Regions from separate parts of the Homo sapiens genome. Here region 2 is linked to region 1. The links come from fine-mapping of genetic effects on plasma protein levels. Region 1 holds a variant in brackets. A gene starts in the other region. All regions are shown on their reverse strands.

Region 1 (12,768 bases):
CAAGCATGGAAAGTCCCCGCGGAGCCTGGGATGCTGTGGACATGCAATAACCAGGTGATGTCATGGGGGCTGGGGTGATAGGTGAGCCATGATCAGCAGGGCAGGCATGTCTGGCCCCCCCAGTGAGGCCCTGGGTTTGGGCTGACGGAGAAAGGGAAGTCCCAGGGCTGGGGAACCGTGGTGTCCTCCTGCAGAAGTTCCCTGATTCTAGGATTCACCAGGGAGGTGGGGAGGGGAAGCCCCCTGCCCTGCTCATTCGGGCAGCCAGAGGGCAGGGAGAAGGTACGGGAAGGAAGGCACTGACATGGTGGGGGAGTGCCTCCCTCATTGGACTAGAGCTTCCCAAGGATGGGAGGAAGACCTCTGCCATCAGACTTGGAGGCCCCCAAGGTGGGGACATGTTTCCCATCAGTGTAAGAGTTCCTTGAGGGTTTGAATTGCATTCTTCCTCCTCCATCAGATCAGAATCTCCCTGAGAATGAAAGTGTGACTTCTTCACAGATTAGATATCTCTAAAAGTGGATTTTGCTTCTCCCATCGGTTCCGTGAAGATGCATGGGGCATCTGGGTTCAGGACTAGATCTAAAAGGAAAAAAAAATGGGGTGGGGCAGCATGACTCCCTCCTCTGTCTAGATTCTCAATTGAGGGGAGCAATTTTGCCCCTCCTCCCCAGAAGACATTTGGATGAATGTCAGACTAGACTAGAGCTTCCTGAAGATAACAGGCATGCCTCCACCCTCATAGGAAACCTCCCTGTGGGTGGGTTTGGGTCCTGCCTCCTCCATCAGACTAGAGCTCACTACGCTGTAAATCTTGAATCCTTCTTGGGACTAGGAGTGCTGTCCGAGTAAAATTAAGTTTTGTCCATCAAATTAGACTAGGAAATATAAATTTCCCCAGGAGGGAGCTGGTATGTGCCTCCTCCATCAGATTAGTGGTTCCTTCTTGACTTGAGTTGGGGGAAATCATGCCACCCCTATCAGCCTAGCCACTCCCTAAGTAGGAGCCCTCCCATTGAATTAGAAGCCCCTCTTCTCAAGCCCACCCTGGCAGGGTGGAGCATGGTGCCTATCCAGGAGGGACAGTCCCTTTCCTGAAACTCCAGCCTTTTCCCTGGAAGTCGGTGCCTCCCCTACTCAAGGCCACAACCTGCCCTGTGGCCACCAGCATTTAAAAATACAGATGCAAAAGTCCCTCAGGCTCCTGGGAAAGCCGAGGTCACACTGGGCCCTTCCTCATTTGAGCCGGGACATGGCACACTCACCTCCCTTGTTTCCAACCGTCATCCCAGTGTCCCAGTCGGGGCCACCCATACCCTCCAACACATTCCCAGGATACTGAGGATGGGGCAGGGCTGTCTCTACTGCCTCATCCCTGTGGAGTCAGGTGGTTGCAAGTCAGGAGCAAATCCCAACACGGCAGCCTCTCAGCCAAGCAATCCTGGGCAGGCTCAATTTCCACATCCAAAAAGAATGGGACTGGCCCAGGATTGTTGAGGTTGCATCTCCTCCCAGGGAGAGCCAGGCTCTGGGGTGGCTGGTGGGAAGAGAAATAGATGACCACTCTTACTGGCGTCACGCTCTGCAGGAGGTGGGGTGGGGGCGGGGAGGCGCTGGCTTGTGGCCTCTACTCTGAACATCACCTACCCTTGAACTTGTCACTTCAGCCCACTGTGGTCACACAGAGTCACAGCACATTTGCTCACTTCTGGGAAAATCAAATTGTATTTGCTGTTTCAGATCCCAAATTCTCCTGTGGGTTCCTGGTGCACCGTGCACCAGGTCTCTGTGCCAGGGCTCCATGCCAGGGCTCAGAACTTTTGCCCACCGCCCCCTGGAGAGCCACGTCATTTGAGGAACAGAGATTTGGAATCGTGGGATTAAAAAAAAATCCCTGAAAATTATGAAATATAACATGGGGAGAATTGCGTACAATTAAAATATATTGTTCTGTTTCAGAGACTTTTGTAAAGGAAACAGTTAGGTTAAGAAAGTGTTGCTGGGCCAGGCGCGGTGGCTCATGCCTGTAATCCTAGCACTGGAAGGCCGAGGGGGCGGATCACCTGAGGTTAGGAGTTCGAGAGCAGCCTGGGCAACATGGCAAAACCCCATCTCTACTAAAAATACAAAAATTAGTGGGGCATGGTGGTGCACGCCTTGTGGTCCCAGACACTCTGGAGGCTGGGAGAATAGCTGAACCGAGGAGGCGGAGGTTGCAGTGAGCAATATTGCTATTGCGCCAATGCACGCGAGCCTGGGTGACAGAGTAAGACTCTGTCTCAAAAAAAAAAAAAGAGAAAAAAAGAGAAATAGTGTTGCTAGTTCCTCAGAAGCTCCTTCATGCCTCTTCATGCCTCACAGCTCCCTCCCTCCTGGAAAGGTGACCTGTATTTTGTCTTTTATGGTATAATTTTCTTGCTTTTCTTTATATTTTTGCTACCTACGACTACTACGATTTTGAATTTTTAATAAAGGAAATCTTTTTTTTTTTTTAGATGGGGTCTCGCTTTGTCATCCAGGCTGGAGTGCAGTGGGTGTGACCATAGCTCTCTGGAGCCTTGAACTCCTGGCCTCAGCCAATCTTCTGGCCTCAGCCTCCCGACTAGCTGGGACCCCAGGTGCATTGCTACCATGCTTAGCTAATTTTTTTTTTTTTGAGACAGAGTTTTCCTATTGTCGCCCAGGCTGGGGTGCAATGGTGCGATCTCGGCTCACTGCAACCTCCGCCTCCTGGGTTCAAGCGATTTTCCTGCCTCAACCTCCTGAGTAGCTGGGACTACAGGCATGCGCCACCACGCCCGGCTAATTTTGTATTTTTAGCAGAGACGGGGTTTCACCATGTTGGTCAGGCTGGTCTCGAACTCCTGACCTCAGGTGATCCGCCTGGCTCAGCCTCTCAAAGTGTTGGGATTACGGGCGTGAGCCACCATGCCTGTCCTAAAGGGAATCTTATTGTACAACCTCTTGGATCTGGCTTCTTTGACTCAATTTTATGTCTGTGAATTTCATTCATATTCTTTTCTGTTTTTTCTTTTTTTTTTTTTTTTTGAGCTAAAGTTTAAAGTTTCGATCTTTTTGCCCGGGCTGGAATGCAACGGCGCAATCTTGGCTCACTGCAACCTCTGCCTTCTGAGTTCAAGTGATTTTCCTGCCTCAGCCTCCTGAGTACGGTTACAAGTGTGCACCACCACACCTGGCTAATTTTGTATTTTTAGTAGAGATGGGGTTTCACCATGTTGGCCAGGCTGGTCTCAAACTCCTGTCCTCAGGTGATCCATACCCCTTAGCCTCCCAAAGTGCTGGGATTACAGGTGTGAGCCACCTTGCCTGGCTTTTCATTCATATCCTTGAATCTATTGGAGTGTGTTTATTTTTTCATTGCTGTATACTATTCTCTTGCATGGATATAGCACAATTTATTTTATTTTATTTTTTTTGAGACTGAGTCTTGCTCTGTCACCTAGGCTAGAGTGCAGTGGCATGATCCTGGCTCACTGCAATCTCTGCCTTCTGGGTTCAAGCGAGTCTCTTGCCTCAGCCTCCAGAGTAGCTGGGATTACAGGCATGTGCCACCACGCCCAGCTAATTTTTGTATTTTTAGTAGAGATGGGGTTTCACCATGTTGGCCAGGCTGGTCCTGAACTCCTGACCTCAAGTGATCCACCTGCCTCAACCTCCCAAAGTTTTGGGATTACAGGCTTGAGCCACTGCGCTCGGCTGTATAGCACAATTTTTGAATCTATTATTTGTTGGTGGGCAGAAGGTTGGTTTCCACTTTCTGACTGTTTTGGCCAATACTGCTCATGCTCATGAGCGTGCATTTTTCTGCATTCTCCAGGACTAGAATTGTTAGGCTGCAGGGTGTCCCCTGTAGAAGACATGGCCAGACACTTTTCCCACGTGGTTATGCCAATTCTCACTCCCATCTTCAATGTCCGCTGTGAGTTCTCCTTGCCCCACATCTTTATCAGTACTGGATCTACCAGATTTAAAAATATGAGTCATCCTGCTGTGTGTATGTGTGGATTGGAATCTCAGGGTGGTTCTAATTTGCATTTCCTGGATCAATAATGAGATTCAGCACCTTTTCCTATATACATTGTTCACTTGAATCCAAGCATAAGAGAATCTTAAGGACAAAGAATTATAGACCCTTACAATCTTAGGTGCAAAGAATTCTAGGCTGGGCACGGTGGCTCATGCCTGTAATCCTAGCACTTTGGGAGGCTGAAACAGGAGGATCACTTGAGCCCAGGAATTTGGGACCAGCCTGGACAACAAAGTGAGACCCTGCCTGTGGTCCCAGCTACTTAAGAGACCGAGGTGGGAGAATTTCTTGAGCTTGGGAGATTGAGGCTGTAGTGAGCTATGATCATGCCGCTGCACTCCAGCCTGGGCAACACAGTGAGACCCTGTCTCAAAAAGAAGAAGGAGAAGGAGAAGGGGAAGGGGAAGGGGAAGGGGAAGGGGAAGGGGAAGGAGAAGGAGAAGAGGAGGAGGAGGAGGGAGGAAGAGGAAGAGGAAGGAGAAGGAGAGGAATTCTAGAATCCTAGATTTTTAGGAACAAGGGATTCCAGAACCCTATGCCTCAGTTTCCCCATTTGGATAATGGGGATAATAGAAGTCTGTAACTCATCATGTAGGTAATGTTATATGTGTACACCTGGCATGAAACTTGGCACACAGTGAGTGCTCAGTAAATGTGATTTCTGTCATGGCAAAAATTTTATACATTTTGTTCTCCCTTGTATCATTAGGACCTAGGGCAGAATAGAGGCCCAGTAAGTATTTACTGAATGAATGAATCTTAGTATCAAAGGATCAAGTAAACCTGCAGTTACAGAACTTTAGGAGCAAAAATGGGTAGAATTTAAGAAATTAGGCCAGGCACGGTGGCTCACACCTATAATCCCAGCACTTTGGGAGGCCAAGGTGGGCGGATCACCTGAGGTCAGGAGTTCAAGACCAGCCTGACCAACATGGAGAAATTCCATCTCTACTAAAAATACAAAATTAGCTCGGCATGGTGGTGCATGGCTGTCATCCCAGCTACTCGGGAGGCTGAGGCAGGAGAATCACTTGAACCCAGGAGGAGGAAGTTGCATTGGGCTGAGATTGCACCATTGCACTCCAGCCTTGGCAACAAGAGCAAAACTCTGTCTCAAAAATAAATAAATAAATAAATAAAATAAAAATAAAAATTAAGAATGATCGAAGTCTTGGATAAAGAAAAATGTGGTATGTATACACCGTGGAATACTATGCAGCCATGAAAAGGAATAAGATCATGTGCTTTGCAGGGATACAGATGGAGCTGGAAGCCATTTATCCTCAGCAAACTAACGCAGGAACAGAAAACCAAACACCACGTGTTCTCACTTATAAGTGGGAGCTGAATGATGAGAACACATGGACACAGGAAGGGGAACAACACAAACTGAGGCCTGTTGGGATGGGGAGGGGTGCAGAGGGAGGGAGAGCATTAGGAAGAATAGCTAATGCATGACGGGCTTCATACCTAGGCGATGGGTTGATGGGTGCAGCAAACCACCGTGGCACATTTTTACTATGTAACAAACCTGCACATCCTGCACATATACCCTGGAACTTGAAAAAAAAAGAAGAATGATCAGAGTCTTAAGAACTAAAGAGAGATAAAAATGCATCCTTGGCAAACTTAAGATTCACTATTTATTTATTTATTTATTTATTTATTTATTTATTTTTATTGAGATGGAGTCTCACTCTGTCACCCAGGCTGGAGTGTAGTGGTGCGGTCTTGGCTTATGCCAACCTCTGTCCCCCAGGTGCAAGCGATTCTCATGCCTCAGCCTCCCGAGTAGCTGGGACTACAGGTGCACGCTAGCTAATTTTTTTGTGTTTTTTAATAGAGACAGGGTTTCGTCCTGTTGGCCAGGCTGTTCTTGAACTCCTGACCTCAGGTGATCCGTCCACCTTAGCCTCCCAAAGTGCTGGGATTACAGGCATGAGTCACTACGCACGGCCAGATTCACTATCTTAAATTTATATTTATTATTAATTATTATTATTATTTTTAGATATGGGGTCTTGCTCTGTCACCCAGGCTGGAGTGCAGTGATGTGATCATAGCTCACTACAGCTCCAAACAGGAGGCTCAAGTGATCCACCTGCCTGGGCCTCCCAAAGCACTGGGACTACAGGCAGGCACCACCTTGCCTGCCCTTTATCTTAAACTTTTAGAAACAAGGAAGCTGCCCGGCCAATGCCGTCTAGCTCAGAGTGAGAACAGAGAAGAGAAAGGAGCGGGCGCCCAGGTCTTCTCACCCTCCCTGTGTCCCCTCCCCTGGGTGGCTCTTATAGCCACTTCTCATTTCCATGGCCTTTCCTCAGCCTCCCCACCTCCTCCTGCCTGGTCCTCCCTTTGCACAGGATGGAACCTGAGGAAGCTGCTCCTTCCTGAGCCCCATCATCGGGAGAAAGTCCAGGATCCTGCCGCAGAGGACCCACACCAGCTACCGTCTTCCTTCAGCCTTATCCCCCGGCTCTGTCCCACCCACACCCCTTTCTGCCTCTTAGCCAAGGCCTCTCTCGCACCATCCTCCTTCCATACATACCCCTTTCACTTCAACGTCAAAACTATACCTCTTTCTTGGAGATCCAAACCAGGTCACACAGTAAGTGCTCAATAAACACATCAGGCCCCAGCTCTGACAGCCTTTCCTCCAGGAAGCCCTCCCTGATTTCTCTTTCTAGTCTGAGTCAGGAGCCCCCTCTGGGCCCCCCTGACCATGCCAGCCCCAACATTCTGGGATGCGACTGTCTGGGGACAGGCTAGTCTTCCCCATGTGTGAGCCTGTGAGGGCAGGCCTGGGGCTGTCACTGCTGTGTGTATCCAGCACTGCCCCAAACAGCAGAGACCTCTGGGCACGGGGCTGTCAAGCCCATCTGACTGTTCACAAGGCTTGCTTACAATGCTCTTAATTGTGTGCCCTCGATGCCATTTCTCTGGGATCCCAGGGATGGCTCCACTCACTTTTCCAGGTCAGCAAAGGAGTGCCCGATGGTTCAAAGGGATGCAGGTGAGGCCCTGACAGTGCTCAGCCCACCACCTGCCCTCCGGAGACATAGGAGCCATTGTCAGCTGCTCAGGTCTCTGTCTCCAGTTCCCCTCTAAAAGCTCATAAAGCCCCTCTGTTTCACTTGTAAACGTTTCTTGCATGAATCCACAGTGAGACCTGAGACCTCAGCACCTGCCCTCAGTGATCATTCCCTCCTTCCCAACTCCCTCATCATTTACCCAGGCACAGAGAAGTTAGGAGCTTTGTCTAAGGTCACACAGCCAATAAGGGGGAAGAGGAGCTAAATGTGTGTGTGTGTGTGTGTGTGTGTGTGTGTTTTGAGACGGGGTCTCACTCTGTCACCCAGGCTGGAGTGCAGTGGTGCATTCACGACTCACTGCAGCCTCCACCTCCCGGGGCTCAGGTGATCCTTCCCCCTCAGCCTCCTGAGTAGCTGGGACTACAAGCATGTGCCACCATGCCCTGCTAGTTTTTGCATTTTTTTTTTTTTTTTTTTGTAGAGACAGGGTCTTGCCAGGAAGCCCAGACTGGTCTTGAACTCCCGGGCTCCAGTGATCCTCCTGCCTCAGCCTCCCAAAGTGCTGGGATTACAGTCCTGAACCACTGCACCTGGCCAGGAGTTTAGATTTTAAAAATCAACTGTACTGAGGTATAATTTACATGCAATAAAATACACCTGTTTCAAATGTGTGTGTTTGGCGGGGCATGGTGGCGCATGCCTATAATCCCAGCTACTTGGGAGGCTGAGGCACTTGAATCCAGGAGGTGGAGATTGCAGTGAGCTGTGATCTTGCCACCGAACTCCTGCCTGGGTGACAGAGCGAGACTCTCTCAAAAATAAATCAATTAAATTAATTAAAATTAAATTAAAGAAGGAGTATGCTAGATGAGTTCTGATAAACATGTACAATCATTTAATCATATCCTGATCAAGATATAGAACATTTCTAGTGCCCGGAAAAGGTCCACTGTGCCCTCCTTGCAGTCATCTCCTCCCCTTGTCCCCAGACACTGGCAGCCACTAATCTGCTTTTTCTTTTCTTTTTTTTTTTTTGAGATGGAGTCTCACTCTATTGCCAGGCTGGAGTGCAGTGGCACGGTCTCGGCTCACTGCAACCTCTGCCTCCCTGGTTCAAGTGATTCTCCTGCCTCAGCCTCCCTAGTAGCTGGGACTACAGGCGCCCGCCACCATGCCTGGCTAATTTTTGAATTTTTAGTAGAGACGGGGTTTCACCATGTTGGCCAGGATGGTCTCGATCTATTGACCTTGTGATCTGCCCGCCTCGGCCTCCCAAAGTGCTGGGATTACAGGCGTGAGCCACCGCGCCCGGCCTCTTTTCTTTTCTTTTTCTTTTTCTTTTTTCTTTTTTTTTTTTTTGAGACATTTTGCTCTGTCACCCAGGCTGGAGTGCAGGGGCGCGATCTCTGCTTGCTGCAGCCTCTGCCTCCCGGGTTCAAGTGATTCTTCTGCCTCAGCCTCCCCAGTAGCTGGGATTACAGGCAGGCACCACCATGTCCGGCTAATTTTTGTATTTTTAGTAGAGACGAGGTTTCACCATGTTGGCCAGGCTGGTCTTGAATTCCTGACCTCAAGTGATCCACCCACCTCAGCCTCCCAAAGTTCTGGGATTACAGGCATGAGCCACCACACTCAGCTATATCTGCCTTTTTTTTTTTTTTTTGAGATGGGGTCTTGCTCTGTCACCCAGGCTGGAGTGCAGTGGCACGATCTCGGCTTACTGCAACCTCCACCTCCCGGGTTCCAGCGATTCTCCTGCCTTGGCCTCCTGAGTAGCTGGTATTACAGGTGCCTGCCACCACGCCCGGCTAATTTTTGTATTTTTAGTAGAGGTGGGGTTTCACCATGTTGCCCAGGCTGGTCTCAAACTCCTGACCTCAAGTGATCCACCTGCCTCAGCCTCCCAAAG[T/C]ACTGGGATTACAGGTGTGAGCCGCCACACCCAGCTGCTTTTTATCCCTATAAATTTGCTTTTCCAGGATGACATGTAAATGGGATTACAGAGTATGTAGTCCTTAAAAAAAAATCATTGACAAATTTACCTACAGTAAAATTCACTCTTTTCATCATACATTTCTTTTCTTTCTTTCTTTCTTTCTTTTTTTTTTTGAGGAATGTTCTCACTCTGTCACCCAGGCTGGAGTGCAGCGGTGCGATCACCACTCACTGCAGCCTCAACCTTTCAGGCTCTAGCGATCGTCCCGCCTCAGCTTCCTCATTAGCTGGAACTACAAGTGCACGCCACCAAGCCCAGCTAATTTTTGTATTTATGGTAGAGATGGGGTCTCACTATGTTGCCCAGGCTGGTCTTCAACTCCTGGCCTCTTGCTTTGGCCTCTCGAAGTGCCTGTGGGGCATGCAGTTCTTAAAGCTTTGACAGGCTCATGTGGCTGTGTAGTCACCACCAGAATCAAAATATGGATATGTCCCACCACCCCTAAAACCCTTCATCTGCCCTTTTGGGGTCACGCCCATCCCCCACCCCACCCCTGGCAACCACAGGTCTGTTTTCTGTCCCTCTAGTTTTGCCTTTTTCAGAGTGTCTTGTAAATGGAGTAATGTAGTTATTATCATTATCATCATCATCATCATCACCATCATCATCAATATTTTTATAGAGATGGGGTCTCACCATGTTGCCCAGGCTGGTCTCAAACTCCTGGGCTCAAGCAATTCTCTCACCTTGGCCTCCCAAAGTGCTGGGATTACAGGCGTGAGCCACTGCACTCGGCTGAACACTGTAATTTTTGAGCATAGCTTCTTTCACTCAATATAACACAGTTGAGGTCCATCCACGTTGTGTGTATCAATAGCAGTTAGTCTTCACTGCTGAGTGATATTCCATTGTGTGGATGGACCACAGCTCGCTTATCCACATACAAGCTGAAGGACATTTGGGTTGTTTACAGTTGTTGGCAATTATGAACAGAGCTGCTGTGAGTGTGTGTGCATACAGTTTTTTTGTGTGAAAATAGGTTTTCATTTCTCTCGGGTCAATACCGAGGAATAAAATTGTTGGATCCTATGGGAAGTGTGTATTTAACCTTGCGGGAAGTTGGCAAACCATTTTCCAAAGTGGCTGCTCGGGGCTTGCACGCCCACCAGCAGCCTGTGGGAGTTCTGGCTGTAGAGCTACGAGGTGAATCCGGGTCTGAGAGATGACACTGAGGTCTTAGGCACCACGCCACACCACTCCTGAAATATAATAACAATTGCGGCAAGAGCTCTCGTCTGTCCACAAGTCGACACTGTGCATGCAATTATTAAAAAAAAAAAAAAAAAAAAGAAGGTGCTGATGCGGTGTGATTTTCCAGATGTATTGCTGTATTGCTAGGGGAAAATGCAGGCCACAGCAAGACTGTGCACCATTTGCAAAGCGGCCCCCGCCTGTAATCCCAGCACTTTGCAAGGGCAAGGTGGATGGATCACTTGAGCCCAGGAGTTCGAGATCAGCCTGGGCAACGTGGTAAAACCCCGTCTCTACCAAAAATACAAAAATTAGCTGGGCATGGTGGTGCGTGCTTATGGCCCCAGCTACTAGGGCGGCTGAGGTGGGAGGATCATTTGAGTCCAGGATGTGGAAGCAGCAGTGAGCTATGCTGGCACCACTGTACTCCAGCCTGGGTGACAGAGTGAGACCCTGTCTCAAAACAAAACAAAACAAAAAAACGGAAACTGGGAGGTGAGAACAGGACTGGGGAGGGAGGGGCAGAGTCGTGGTGGGGAAGTGACAGCTCACTGCCATTTGGTCCTTTTTGAATTTTGGAACTTGTGAACACCTTACCTTTTCAAAACACACACACAATTCATTCACTCTGCTAACAGGTTTTCCAGGCCCTGCCCTGGTGTTGAACAACTAAGATTCCTGCCCTTGGGGAGCCACAGACTCGTCCATCCATCCAGGAGACAGTCAACAAGACAAGGAAAATACAGCCAATGGTATGTATTTGCTATGGAGAAAAATAAAACTGGTGAGGGAATGAGGGAGATGGAGCATAGGAAGTGGAAGCTGTTGTTTAAATCTGGTGGCCAAGGGAGGCCCTCCAAGGAATGACGTTTGGGGCTAAGACTTGAGTGAGGGGAGGGAATGAACCATGTGGACATCTGGGGGAAGAGTATTCTAGGCAGAGGGAACAGCAAGTGCCAAGGCCCAGAGGTGGGTCGGAACAGCTGTTGGAGGCCAGTGTAGCTGGAGCAGGATGAGCTGGGGGAGAGTGGGAGGATGGGGAGAGGGGAAGGGTGGCAAGGAGATGGCTCAGGATCTTATGAGCCACTGTAGGGACATAGGCTTTTACTCAGAGGGAGATGGGAGCCATGGAGGGTTCTGGGCAGGGGAGGGATAATCTGACTTCATTTTTTATTTTTTTTCGAGATGGAGTCTCGCTCTGTCGCCCAGGCTGGAGTGTAGTGATGCCATCTGGGCTCACTGCAACCTCCGCCTCCCAGGTTCAAGCGATTCTCCTGCCTCAGCCTCCTGAGTAGCTGGAATTACAGGCATGTGCCACCAGGCCCAGCTAATTTTTATATTTTTAAAATAGAGACAGGGTTTCACCACGTTGGTCAGGTACCATGTTGGCCAACTCCTGACCTCAGGTACTCTATCTGCCTCGGCCTCCCAAAGTGCTGGAATTACAGGCATGAGCCACCATGCCCAGGCCAGGTTTTAATTTAATTTAATTTGTTATTATTATTACTGTTTAGAGACAGGGTCTCACTGTGTTGCCCAGGCTGGAGTACAGTGGTGCCATCTTGGCTTACTATAGCCTCGACCTCCTGGGCTCAAGCGATCCTCCCGCCTCAGCCTTCTGATGACTTAGGTGTTAACAGGATCCCTGTGGCTGCATGTGGGGGAAAGACAGGTCCTTGTGGAGGTGCAGCAAGGACCCAGGCAGGGAGTCCCATGAGGAGGTGACTGCATGGTCCGGGCCTTCAGTGATGGTGGCTGGACCAGAGTGGGAACTTTTTTTTTTTTTTGAGACAGAGTCTTGCACTGTCACCCAGGCTGGAGTGCAGTCGCATGATCTTGGCTCACTGCAGCCTCCACCTCCCGGATTCAAGCGATTCTCATGCCTCAGCCTCCTGAGTAGCTGGGATTACAGGCGCATGCCACCACACCCAGCTAAGTTTTGTATTTTTTGTAGAGACGGGTTTTCACCATGTTGCCCAGGCTGGTCTCGAACTCCTGGGCTCAAGTGATCTGCCTGCCTTGGCCTCTCAGAGTGCTGGGATTACAGGCATAAGCCACCTTGCCCAGCCACCATTTTTTTTTTTTTTTTTTGAGGTTGAGTCTCTCTGTGTCGCCCAGGCTGGAGTACAGTGGCGCAATCTCGGCTCACTGCAACCTCTGCCTCTGGGGTTCAATCGGTTCTCGTGACCTCAGGTGATCCACTTACCTCAGCCTCCCAGAGTGCTGGGAAATACAGGTGTAGGCCACCGCGCCCGGCCCTACATCTTTACTTCTTTTGGTCGTGGGGGCTTTTGGAGAGGTACAGGGAACCAGGAGACGGAGGACAGAGAGGACCCAGGGGACCGGGCCTGGCCTGTTTGAGCTGAGACCTGAAGAGCATGGGGAAGTGTTTGAAGGAGGTGAACAAAAGGCTTTATTAGAAAACCAGAAAGGAGGCTGGGCGCGGTGGTGCATACCTGTAGTCCAAGCATTTTGGGAGGCTGAGGCGGGAGGATCGCTTGAGC
Region 2 (12,768 bases), not on the chromosome of region 1:
TAAAGGGTGTTTGACTGTTTAAGAATGATTTACTTAAAAACAAAGATCCAAAAAGCAAAGAAGTGATCAAAAAACTTGATTTGTAGGGGCAATTGATTATAGAAGAGCTAAAAAAAAAAAACTTTTACAAAAAGAAAACACTGTAAAAGGCTTTGAAATAGCCCTATTACTTGAGAAAAAATACCTATTATTATTAAGTGGTTTCATTCAAATGGCTGATATTCTAGCATTTTTGACATACTACAAATAGTAGTTTCGTATGATTTAACCTAACACAAAAATTGGAGTTAGGTTTCAAATGTGTTGAGAATCAGAACCAACCATTAAACATTGTTTCTAAAAACATGTTGATATGATTCCACTGCTGGGTATATACCCAAATGAAAATCATTCTACAAAAAAGTAAATAAATAAAAATTTAAAAAAACAATATGCACTCATATGTTCATTGTGGTAATATTCACAACAGCAAAAACATGGAATCAACCTGGATGCCCATCAAAGGTGAATTGACAAAAGAAAATGTGGTACATATACATTATGGGATACTATCTATGCAGCCACGAAAAATAATGAATTGTGTCCTTTGCAGTAACATGGATGCAGCTGGAGGCTATTATCCTAAACAAATTAATACAGGAATAGAAAACCAAATACTGCATGTTCTCACTTATAAGAGAAGGAGCTAGACCGAGCACAGTGGCTCACGACTATAATCCCAACACTTTGGGAGGCCGAGGCAGGCGGATCATGAGGTCCGGAGTTCGAGAGCAGCCTGGCCACCATGGTGAAACCCCGTGTCTACTAAAAATAAAAAAATTAGCCAGGCATGGTGGCAGGTGCCTGTAATCCCAGCTGCTCGGAAGGCTGAGGCAGGAGAACTGCTTGAAGCCAGAAGGTGGAGGTTGCAGTGAGCCAAGATCGTGCCACTGCACTCTAGCCTGGGTGACAGAGCAAGACTTTGTCTCGGAAAGAAAAAAAAAAGAGAAGGAGCTAAATATTAGGTAAGCATGGACATAAAGATGGCAAAAATAGGGCTGGAGACTACTAGAGTGGGGAGAAATGGAGGGGGGCAAGGTTAGAAAAACTACCTACTGGGTACTATGCTCACTACCTGAGTGATAAGATCATTTGTACAGCAAACCTCAGCGACATGCAATTTACCCATGTAACAAATCTACACATGTACCCTCTGAACCTAAAATAAAAGTTAAGAAATGTGTTAATATTATGTGGTTAATAACAACATTCTTTCTAAAGTAAATAAACTTAATAGGTTTTCACCTTGCAATCATACCCAATACTATAGAATCCACACTCTGCTATCTCTTCATTTTCTAAAGAAATAAAACTTTCATTGTCCTGAACAGGAATCCTGAAATCTCATGATGAATGAGCACTTTAAATTTGGAATGCAAATATTCTTTTTTTTTTTGTCTCACTTTGTCGCCCAGGCTGGAGTGCAGTGGCACATCTCGGCTCACTGCAAGCTCCGCCTCCTGGGTTCACGCCATTCTCCTGCCTCGGCCTCCTGAGCAGCTGGGACTACAGGCACCCGCCACCATGCCTAGCTAATTTTTGTGTGTGTGTGTGTGTTTTTAGTAGAGACAGGGTTTCACCATGTTAGCCAGGATGGTCTCGATCTCCTGACCTCATGATCCGCCTGCCCTGGCCTCCCAGAATGCAAATATTCTTGAGTAGGTCTAAGATTAATGCTTTTTGCCAGATGAATTAGATTTTACTGATGTTTGCTTAGCCCAATTTCCTTATTTTCTGATAATAAATGTATTTTAATGCACATTATTTGCCCAACAAATTAATATTGCTTTAGTGCAGCAGCTCAGCATTTGCAATGTCTGTTTGTAAAGTAACGTTTGAAGGAAGGGTTGATTTTTGACAACTTTGGCCTGGCAATAAGTTTGGCACAGTTAAGACTTACCTCAGAACCAAATTGCACCCATTATATGAATAATCTCTGGTGACTGCATAAGTAGGGCCAGGCCTCTAGGTCAAGAAGCTATGTGGTAGTAACAGGCATGAGAGTAAAATCAGCTTTTGAACTTCAAATCCCCAGCTGGTGACCAGACATGCATTCAATTACCAGCCTTAGCCAGTGTGTTTTTACCAATTGTGTTCAGACTTCCTTTCACAATCCCAAAGAAAGTATTCATCATTTAAGTTTTGTGTGATCATGAGAAGAATAACATGATCCCAATCTAACCAGAACATGCCAGACAATTTCCAAATTAAGGACATTCTCAAAACACCTAACCAATTCTTCTGCAAACTGCCATAGTCATCAAAAACAAGCAACATCTGAGAAACAGCCATAGCCAAGAAGAACCCAAAAAGTCACGATCACTAAATGCAACCTGGTGTCATGTTGGGATCCTGGACAGAAAAAGAACATTAGGAGCTGAAAATTTAATTCTACACCAAACCTGCACATGCATGTTTATAGCAGCTCTATTCATCACTGTCAAAATTTAGAGGCATCCAAAATGTCCTAGATGAATGAACAAATGAACTCGGGTACATCCAATCAATGGAATTTTAGTAGTAGGTGAATGAATAAAGGGACTTGGATATATCCAATCTTTGGAATTTTATCAGCACTTAAGAGAAATGTGCTATCAAGTTATGAAAAACATAGAGAAACCTTAAGTGCATATTACTAGGTAAAAAAGTCAATATAAAAGGTTACATATTGTGTGATTCCAACTATTTGAAATTCTTAAAAAGATAAAACTGAGGAGACAGCAAAAGGATGAGCATTGCCTGGGGTTGTAGGGGATGGAGTGGTAAGTAGGCAGAACACAGAGAATTTTTAGGGCAGCTAAACTATTCTGTATGATACCATAGTGGTGGGTACCGTCATTATACCTTTCTTAGTTAATTGATATTATGCATGTCATTATACATTTCTCAAAACCCAAAGAATGTACAGCACTTAGAGTGAACCTAATGGAAATGATGGACATTGGGTGATAATGACATGTTAATGTAGGTTTATTACTTACAGCAAATGTACTACCCTGGTTCATGATGTTGAAGGTAGGGGAGACTGTGCCTGCGTGTGGGGAGGGGTATATGGGACTTTTGATACTTTCCACTCAATTGTGCTATGAGCATAAAACTACTCTAAAAAATAAAGTCTGTCAATAATAATAATAATAATAATAAAAACTAGAACAACAGGTAAATCCTAAGCAAGTCTGAATAAAGTATGGACTTCAATTGACAATAATGTATCAATGTTTGTCAGTTGTGACAAACGTACCATAGTAATGTAACAGGTAAATAGGGAACCCAGGTGAGAATTGGAATGATAACTATCTTTGCAATTCTCTGTAAACCTAAAATTATTCTAAAACTTTAAAAAAAAATTTAAAGGGAAGGTATGAAGGGGCAAAGAGAGGAGAATTCCACAATTTATCAGTGTATGCGTACACTGCCTCATTTGTGTTTAGAATGATAGCAGCGGCCTCCAGATAATTCTTCTCTAATTGTGTGTCAGACACTGTGCTTAGTCCCCCTAAGCCTTGCCTCCACATCTGTCCCATGAGGACCTGGGCCGACTTTCCTCCTGGGGTTCTTGTGCAATGGGCCTTTATGTACTCATCCCCAAGAATTACAGAGCCCCTCAGTGCTGGGAGCATGGGGAGGTGGAGGGGCCTGAAGTTACTGGAACCTGCTATGCACTGCGTGGCTGGGGCTCCATGTCCTCTGCAGTCTCCCCAGAGCCACTGGAAAAGGACATCGTTTCCTTAGTTCATGGAGATACGAAGAAAGCTTGGGAAACAGCCTTAGCACAGTGCCTGGCACGCTGTAAGCTCATTGGAGGAAGTGTGCCATTTCTCCCCGTGGACATTCTTAAAGATGTGGGTGGCATGCAGGGCGTCAGGAGCCAATGACACCAACAGAGAGGGGCTCGCATTGGAGCCTGGCCTTGAAGGATGAGGCGGTGTGTGCCAGGCAGAGAAGGAAGGGAAGGGGATCCCAAGTGCAGGGAACAGCAGAGGCAAAGGCAGGAAGTGGGCGCATGCATGGAGTATCTGCAAATGGTGGGACAGGGTTTCAGTGTGGCCAGATTGCAGTGTGTGTGTGCATGTGTGTGTGTGTCTGTCTCTGTGTGTGTGTCAGTGTCACTGTGTGTGATTCTGTGTGTGTGTGCCTATGAGTATGTGTGTGAATGTGTCTAGGTGTCAGTATGTGTGTGTCTCTGTGTGTCTATGAGTGTGGTGTCTTTGAGTGTGTTTGTGTGTGTTTGAGTGTGTCAGTGTGTGTTTGTGTGTGTCTTTGTATGTGTGTCAGTGTGTATGTGTATTTATGTGTCTGCGTGTGAGTACCTGGAAATGAGGTTGGAAGGGCAGGATGAGCCAAGGAGGTGACTGCCCCACAGCCTGCTCTGATGCTGTGCTGCTGAGTCTAGAAGGGAAAGAGCAAAGCAGACGCTGGGATGGGAGTCACAGGAAGGGGAAGGGCCACAAGGAGCCAGTGGGGAATGTGCAGTGTTACCTGGCAAAGCTCAGAGAAGCACTTCCCAGAAAGACCCCGGAGTCCACATGTTTCCTTGTAAATATGTTTTGTGTTCCAACTGCAATCTGCCTCCAGAAAGAATCTGCCTGCCTCCCAAGGATCAAGTAGAATTTTCCATTTTGTAGGAGACTCCCCTTGTTGAGCAAAGCAGCTTTGCCTTGCCTATGTCCAAATAATCCTCCAAAATACCGCATGAGAGAGCCTGTTCGTGGAGGTCAGGGCCTCAGCGGGGTGTTTGTGAGGATAGTGAGGACGGACCCCTGGGTGAGGCAATTTTAGGAGAGAGGCACACAGCTTCAGAAATGGCTTCTTCCAACAGATTCATGCAGAGACTGAGCCTCTGAGTAAATTGGTCAACATCTATAGCTATGACCACGGAATTCTCAAACAGGTGGATCGTTCATAAAATCCAAACACAGTTACAAGTTTTGGCCTGCATAGTGTTGAGCTACAGCTTTATTTTTAGAAAATTTTAATTAGCTGCCAACCAATTTCATATAAACACATCTGGATTTGGGGATGTCATTTTAAAAATCAGACAGTGTGACAATACTGAGCCTAATCCCTGCATTTTCTCAGTCAATTGGAGATGAGTGTTGACCTCTATGGAGGCAGAGACTCTCTAGTTTGCCACAGTCCCCATCACTCCCTATTGCCTTATCTCAAACCCAAAAGTCAGTTGCCATTTAATATCACACTAAACAATAGTTTTCTTATGGCTGAATTAAGGAAAAGTGAACAATTTCTTCTTCTGAAAATCTATGAAAGGTGAGGTGATAATATATAATGAGGGCCACATCTTCCCTGTAGAAGTGAGTTTCTTTTTAAATGCTGCATATGTAAATAACAAATGTCTGTTTTCAAAGTATACAACTTAAGACCCTGTCATGAGGCAAAACGATTCTGCTCCACTTTATGTTAACAGCTTAGCCCAGTAAAAATTTAGTATGCAGCTATAAAGGAGACGTTGTTATTGTCAGCACACTGCAAATGGATGATGGGAGAGGCTAAGTGGTTTGGGCATAGCACTCAGCTAAACACATGCTGTGGCCAGGATTCCACCTGGGTCATTCTGGTGTGGGACTGTGCCTGTAGCAGGCAGGGCAGCCTGAGCTCTCTGAATGAGACCTGAAGGTAAGTATTTACAACAGTAATCTTATATTAAAAATTCCCTCTTTACCAGCCTCTCAGAGCCTGGTAGAATTCCCTGATAAAAAAGAGGGAATTTTTAATGTAAATTTCCCTGCCTCTAGAATTAGGGTATCCTCTGCTTATGTAGTAACTTCAGATGGAAAAAGGAACTCAGACACTACGAAAACTTCGGCAACTTCAGTCACCCATTCAACAAAGATTTATTGAGAGTGGCAGGCAGGAAGAGATCAGACCATGGATGTAGAGAATCTCACTTTTAATTTTGAGATGTTCCTTTTCCTGCCTCTGTGAACTTGGACAAGCTCTTACATATCTCCAGAACCAATTCCTGCTTTTGTAAAAGGGGAGGAATCATTGCACTCCCTACTAGAGCGGATGTGATGAGGGAAAAGGAGAACTCAGGTAAAATGGGCTCAGTAGTTTGGCAGCTCGGATCATGTCATTATAGTTATTTTACTCCTCCATAGACATCACTGCTGGGGTCCTCTCCCCATCAAGGAGGGTCACTGTGAGGCTGAGTTGTCCTCCTATCCTGGCCACAGGGTGGACAGGGAAGGGCCTAGAGGAAGCGTTTGATGGCATGCAGGTAACCCCCCTTTTCACTGGATTACATCCAGCACTTTCCCTGCAGGAACCGGCTCCCTCGGAGGGGCGTGGCTGGGAGGAGCTGTGAGTAACGTGCCACAGTGTTGTAAAAACCCAGTGAGTGTTATAAAAACCCAGTCAGCCTGGCTCCTGTTGAATAGTCTACCCCCCTTGCACTCTACCTGACACAGCTGCAGCCTGCAATTCACTCGCACTGCCTGGGATTGCACTGGATCCGTGTGCTCAGAACAAGGTAAGAGCCTCGCTCCTTTAACAGCTTTATTACCTGCTGCCACTTCTCACTCCACCAAGGGCCTGGAGTTCCTTGGGCCTGCATTCCATCATGGGCAGGTGGGGGCTGAGCCCCAGGGCCGTGAGAAATGACTGGGTGTTTTTCTGGCATATCCAGTCTCCTCTTCACCATTTATTGCTGTTCTCTGCCCTTTTGTGATTGTCTTTCTCCTTCTTAACCCTAGAAGATGGCCAACTTCTAGGGTAGAAATCAGATCAGGACCATTTCCTGGGTCTGCCTCTTTTTATAAAAAATTCTGTGTTTTGTTTTAAATGGAGCACAAATAATACAAATCATCTTATCATTATGTGTTATATGAAACTAAATTGTCATTGTTCATAGTTGTTTTTCTTATTCTTTGGCAATGTTTTTAAAGGGCAGAGTAAATGTGAAAAGCAAAAAGTGATCAACCAGGGGTGACAGAAAGGAATAAGGAGATTGATCTGGCTACCCATACCAGCTTTGAACTTGCCCACTATGAGATCCTGAGCAATTTACTTACCTGTCTGAGCCTTAAGAGTCAGAGCTGTCACCTGGGATGACATATTAATAGCTACCTGGAAGAGCTCTTGTGTGGATTTCACAAGGTGGGAATCAAACCCTAGACCAGTACTTAGCACACAGGAGGTGTCATATAGAAACTGACTTCTCTTCTTCTGTTAAGCATGGGTTTTTATTGTACACATGATCAGATTCATGCAGTTCAGTGTGACGTTGGTGTTCATCCTATTGATTCAATGATTTCTCATGATCCTTGTCTTCGATCTTGTAGTGTGAACTATCTGGTTGAAATTCACCTCTCTCCACCCTGATTCACTTTGCCCAGGCAAATCAGACAACCACCCCACCTCACACCTTTCCTTAAACTCTTACTTCCCCACAAAAAGCTCCCCCACCCCCACAACCCCACCCACCCCACCCAAACCCCAGGCATGTTCAACTCTGGGTCAACATCACCTTTCATGATGCTTACCACATCCTTTCTCATTTTGGGCATCTGTCATGTCTTTTCTCATTTTGGGCATCTGTGTCCATATGGAGTCATGAGATAGAAATCCAGCCCTTTGGAGCTGAAAGTTTGGAGCAGTAACTTGTTTCATATCAGAAACAGAGATGACGGGATAGATTCCCTGATCAATGCTATTTAAATTCTCCCAAAGAGTGGTCTCTAAGCTCTTTCAAATCTGAGGCTTTCTCAATCATGGTGATTTCTTCAACACCTAGTCTGGTGGGGGGCATATAGTAGGTGCTCAGTAAATGCTTGTTGAATGAGTGAATGAAAGAGTGAGGAGTGAGCAGATGCAGGAGTTAATGAGTGAATAAATGATAAATGAGAGTTCGTGAGGCTCCAAAGAGTGGTACTTTTGTGACACTCAAGACTCAAGTCAAGTGGAAATGTGAGTAGACAGGCTGTTTGTCTAGTGACTCCAGGAGCCAGAAGCGTTCTTGGTCTACTCTGAAATCATGTAGGCACCTGTCAGGGTAGGGGGAGGCCAGCGTGTAGTCCTGCACAGCTGAACTGCTGCCTGCCACTGACTCACTTGCCTTTTGTCAAACAGGTGAACGCCCAGCTGCAGCCATGAAGATCTGTAGCCTCACCCTGCTCTCCTTCCTCCTACTGGCTGCTCAGGTGCTCCTGGTGGAGGGGAAAAAAAAAGTGAAGAATGGACTTCACAGCAAAGTGGTCTCAGAACAAAAGGACACTCTGGGCAACACCCAGATTAAGCAGAAAAGCAGGCCCGGGAACAAAGGCAAGTTTGTCACCAAAGACCAAGCCAACTGCAGATGGGCTGCTACTGAGCAGGAGGAGGGCATCTCTCTCAAGGTTGAGTGCACTCAATTGGACCATGAATTTTCCTGTGTCTTTGCTGGCAATCCAACCTCATGCCTAAAGCTCAAGGATGAGAGAGTCTATTGGAAACAAGTTGCCCGGAATCTGCGCTCACAGAAAGACATCTGTAGATATTCCAAGACAGCTGTGAAAACCAGAGTGTGCAGAAAGGATTTTCCAGAATCCAGTCTTAAGCTAGTCAGCTCCACTCTATTTGGGAACACAAAGCCCAGGAAGGAGAAAACAGAGATGTCCCCCAGGGAGCACATCAAAGGCAAAGAGACCACCCCCTCTAGCCTAGCAGTGACCCAGACCATGGCCACCAAAGCTCCCGAGTGTGTGGAGGACCCAGATATGGCAAACCAGAGGAAGACTGCCCTGGAGTTCTGTGGAGAGACTTGGAGCTCTCTCTGCACATTCTTCCTCAGCATAGTGCAGGACACGTCATGCTAATGAGGTCAAAAGAGAACGGGTTCCCTTAAGAGATGTCATGTCGTAAGTCCCTCTGTATACTTTAAAGCTCTCTACAGTCCCCCCAAAATATGAACTTTTGTGCTTAGTGAGTGCAACGAAATATTTAAACAAGTTTTGTATTTTTTGCTTTTGTGTTTTGGAATTTGCCTTATTTTTCTTGGATGCGATGTTCAGAGGCTGTTTCCTGCAGCATGTATTTCCATGGCCCACACAGCTATGTGTTTGAGCAGCGAAGAGTCTTTGAGCTGAATGAGCCAGAGTGATAATTTCAGTGCAACGAACTTTCTGCTGAATTAATGGTAATAAAACTCTGGGTGTTTTTCAGAAATACATTCAAACATTGCTTGGTTTTCTCTGTGTCTGGTCCCAAATAAACTCATTAAGTAGTCCCCATATATCAATGGAAAAACAATCTAAACAGGAACTTCCAGTTCCCCACCCTTCGCAAGTTATCTCTTTCTGGAATCCTTCTTTATAATTGTATCCATTGGTCAGTGGTGTTTGGTGTTTATTGAAGTATAATAACTAGGATCCCTGTTTTCAGGTGGGACACCTGGTATATAATGTGATTAAATCATTTGTCAGGGACTCATAGATGGTAAGAGGGCCGGTAGGATTGGAACCCAGGAGCTCTGACAGCTGAGTCTACAGGGTTGAGGAACCTCCGCTACTGATTCATGTCAGAGCTGCCCATTCCCTCCCCCACCCGAAAGACCCCGGCCTTGCAAAGCTCAATTCTGGAGAAGAAATGAGTTTCATTCCTTCATTCTTCATTCTTGGAGAAGAAAGGCCTAGTTAAGTACAGTGGCCCAAGATAAGGGCTATAAAGGAAGGGGGAGAGGGCTACAAGGAAAACCAGAGAGAGAAGGCAGAAACTGCTGTAAGATCTGGGCTTGAGTGTAACAGGGGAGGGAATAGTGGAGCTGGATTTTGGAAAGAGTATCTGTGGGAATAAAATGGGGCAAAGTGGAGGCACTTTAGGCATTTGATAACATGAATGAAAGTGAATAGATGGGAAGTTTCAGATTCTGGGAGAGGTCAGGTGTCTGGGATCGGATGGGATGCAGCGATGAGACTGCCATTATTCATTTATATGTTAGTATGAAGGATCTGAAAGTTGTATTTTAAGAGTGGGGGAGAGAGGATGAACTGTCTCCAATGCCTTGTCACAATTCCACAACCAGGGAAAGGAGGAGCAGAAGCTGACGAAAGCACTGTTCTTTAGCATGTCTGATGGTGGCAGGGAGGAATGGCAGGTGGGGGGGAAGGAAAGCCTTTTACATTCACCAACCTACTGGGATGCACACTGAGGACGTCAGAGGCCAATCCACAGTGCCACAGCCTCAGAGTGACATTTGGATGTCATCATGATCATCAATAAAAAGAGCACTTATCTCTTACCTGCTATGAGCAAGCACTGTTCCAAGTTTTCCCATGGATAGTGGATTTATTCATTCACTCACTCACTCAACACATAACTTACAGAGCACTGACTCACTCCAGGTTGTGTTCCAGGTGCCAGAGATACAGCAATGGATGTACAAGAGACGAGTGTTCTGCCCTCATGGAACAGTGGGAAAAGTGATGATGAGCTCATGATACATGATACACGATAGAGAAGACTATTAAAGCAAGGGAAGGGGATAAAGTGATCGAGGGTAATGAGCTTTAGATGGGGTGGAGAGGAAAAGCCTCTCTGTGGTGGTTACTTTTGAGCTTAGACCTAAAAAGAGGAATCTCTTTTTAGCCAGGGAACTCTCCTGGGTAAGCATGTTCCAAACAGAGGGACCAGTCAGAACATATGCCCTGAAATCATGGTTAATCTATTTATTCAATCCTATTTGTCCCTTCTTTTTGCCAGGAACTCTACCATAGGTGAGAAATAGCAATGAAGGAAAGAGAAAAAAGAAATCCCTGTCTTCATGGCACTTCCATTCCCATGACAGGGATCATGCTTGGCATGTTAGAGAAATGTCCAAGAGGGTGGGGTCATTGTAGGATGGGGCCTGGGGCCTGACCTGTGAACCTTACCACCAACTCCAAGAGCACTGAAGCAACATTCCAGACCCTCCCCAAGCTCCTTCAAGCCACAGCAAAGAAAGGATATTTTCCCTTAAGGTCTACACAGGTTCTCAGCCCTGTGGCCCCCTCCTCCACATATGTAACATAGCCCTGAGATAGAAAAAGAATAATAATCTCCTCCAGGAGTCACTCAACAGTCATCAGGTTTGTTATGGGTTGGCAAGAACATTGGAGAACAGACCCAAAACCTCCTTAAACTCCTCCAGGCCCGCAGTTGCTGGTTTGAGTTCACTCCTGGCCTCTGGTCACTGGCAGAACTGGAAGGAGTTTTGCCTCTACCATGGAAGAGTGACCTGGATCTCAGCACAAAGTTTGCTTCTGCTGATAGATAACCAGTCTCAGGGCCAATTATTTAATCTTCTGAGCAGAAATGAGCTCATCTTGACAATGGAATCATGAAACCCACCCATTATTAAGGGTCCTGAAACACTGACATTGGTCAATATCTCTGAATCTCTTAATACTATGCCAATAGTTAGATAATAGTTGTTCAACACCACTGACCACTTAAAGTCCACAGCAGGAGACTGAATTGTAGAGGGAAGTCAAAATTCCCAGTGAAAACTCTCTAACTGTGGAAGGTTTTTGGTTTTGTTTATTTGTGTCTGTAGTACAAGTGGCCAGGAGCCACCATTATGGATCACCCACTGTGTGCCAGTGGTTTTGCTCCATTGTCTCGTGAATCCCCCACAACTCCATCTGGTAGGAGTCTCACCTTCATTTTCTAGATGAGGAAAGTGAGGCTGAGAGAAGCCGAGGAACCTTCCCAGGGTTATGAAGTTATTAAATGGCAGAGCCTATAATGGGAATCCCTGGCCTGGAGGTCCCAAGCCCTTTCTGCCTCTGAAGTGCATGATTTTCTTCACTCAGTGATAGAAGAGTGACATTTATGGTCTCTGGATGTAGGCCAAACTTGACAATGAACAATATCCATCAGTCCATTCCACATATATATCTTCTTCCTGTCCTTACAGAGAGAAAGTTCTAGAAGTGAACACTTCCATTGCACTCAGCCTCCGATCATAGTCATATGCTGAGGGGATGTTTTAAGAACACAGTAAAAAGAAATATGTAAATAGAGGCTCCACAGATTTACATTGACTTTCTTTTTTTACCTTTTTTCTTTTTCTTTTCCTCTTTTTTTTTTGAGACGGAGTTTCGCTCTCGTCACCCAGGCTGGAGTGCAGTGGCATGATCTCAGCTCACTGCAACCTCTGCCTCCCAGGTTCAATCGATTCTCCTCTCTCAGCCTCCCGAATAGCTGGGATTACAGGCACCTGCCACCACGCGCAGCTAATTTTTGTATTTTTAGTAGAGACAGGGTTTCAACATGTTGGCCAGGCTGGTCTTTAACTCTTGACCTCAGGTGATCCACCCGTATTGGCCTCCCAGAGTGCTGGGATTACAGGCATGAGCCACCGTGCCCGGCTACATTGACTTCTATTCACCTTAGTGCTACATATTTTCTCCCTGAGAACTTTCTGGATATGAAGTAGAGAAGCCAACTTTCTCTGTGTGTGTGGTCTTTAAGATATGACTTGTTTTGACAGCAAAAGATGGAAATTTTTCGGTAGGTAAGATGTGCTGAAGATTGGCATGTCTGTACCCCCTAAAGCCACTCAGAAGTGGGAATGTCTCTCTTTCCTTATAAAACCACATCTCGGCAGAAAGAGGGTCTCTTCCTTCGGGCACCCCAGCTCTGTGTGGTAACTCACAGTCACACCAGTGCTGACTTGAATCTCTGGAATCCAACAGATCTCACCTAGCCTCCTTCCCCAGCCTCTCTCCGAAGTTGTTTTTGGCAGAAATGGCA

Which allele goes with the higher level. Alleles are on the strand shown, and positions count from the first base shown. The strength of an association depends on the size of the effect and on how common the allele is.
For the plasma level of the protein whose gene starts at base 6,040 in region 2, allele T in region 1 goes with a higher level than allele C (strong association).

What was found. PIP is the chance, under the fine-mapping model, that this variant and not a neighbour inherited with it causes the effect. The UK Biobank Pharma Proteomics Project read protein levels with antibody pairs (Olink). The fine-mapping took linkage between variants from a reference panel, not from the people measured, so its PIPs are less certain.
Region 2: it holds the start of FGFBP1, and the variant in region 1 is fine-mapped to the plasma level of the FGFBP1 protein (UK Biobank, PIP above 0.99).

The regions. Positions count from the first base shown.
Region 1 is chr19:44,726,340-44,739,107 of GRCh38, reverse strand. No RefSeq gene overlaps it. Among named protein-coding and RNA genes, the nearest start is that of CEACAM16-AS1, 7.5 kb to the right of the region's middle. RefSeq lists an enhancer at 1,479-1,980. The variant T/C (reference allele first, on the strand shown) is at 8,990.
Region 2 is chr4:15,932,012-15,944,779 of GRCh38, reverse strand. It overlaps FGFBP1 (fibroblast growth factor binding protein 1), which reads left to right and starts at 6,040. Exons shown (of 3, transcript NM_005130.5): 1 at 6,040-6,093; 2 at 6,309-6,529; 3 at 8,128-9,203. The coding sequence starts at 8,148. The coding sequence ends at 8,852.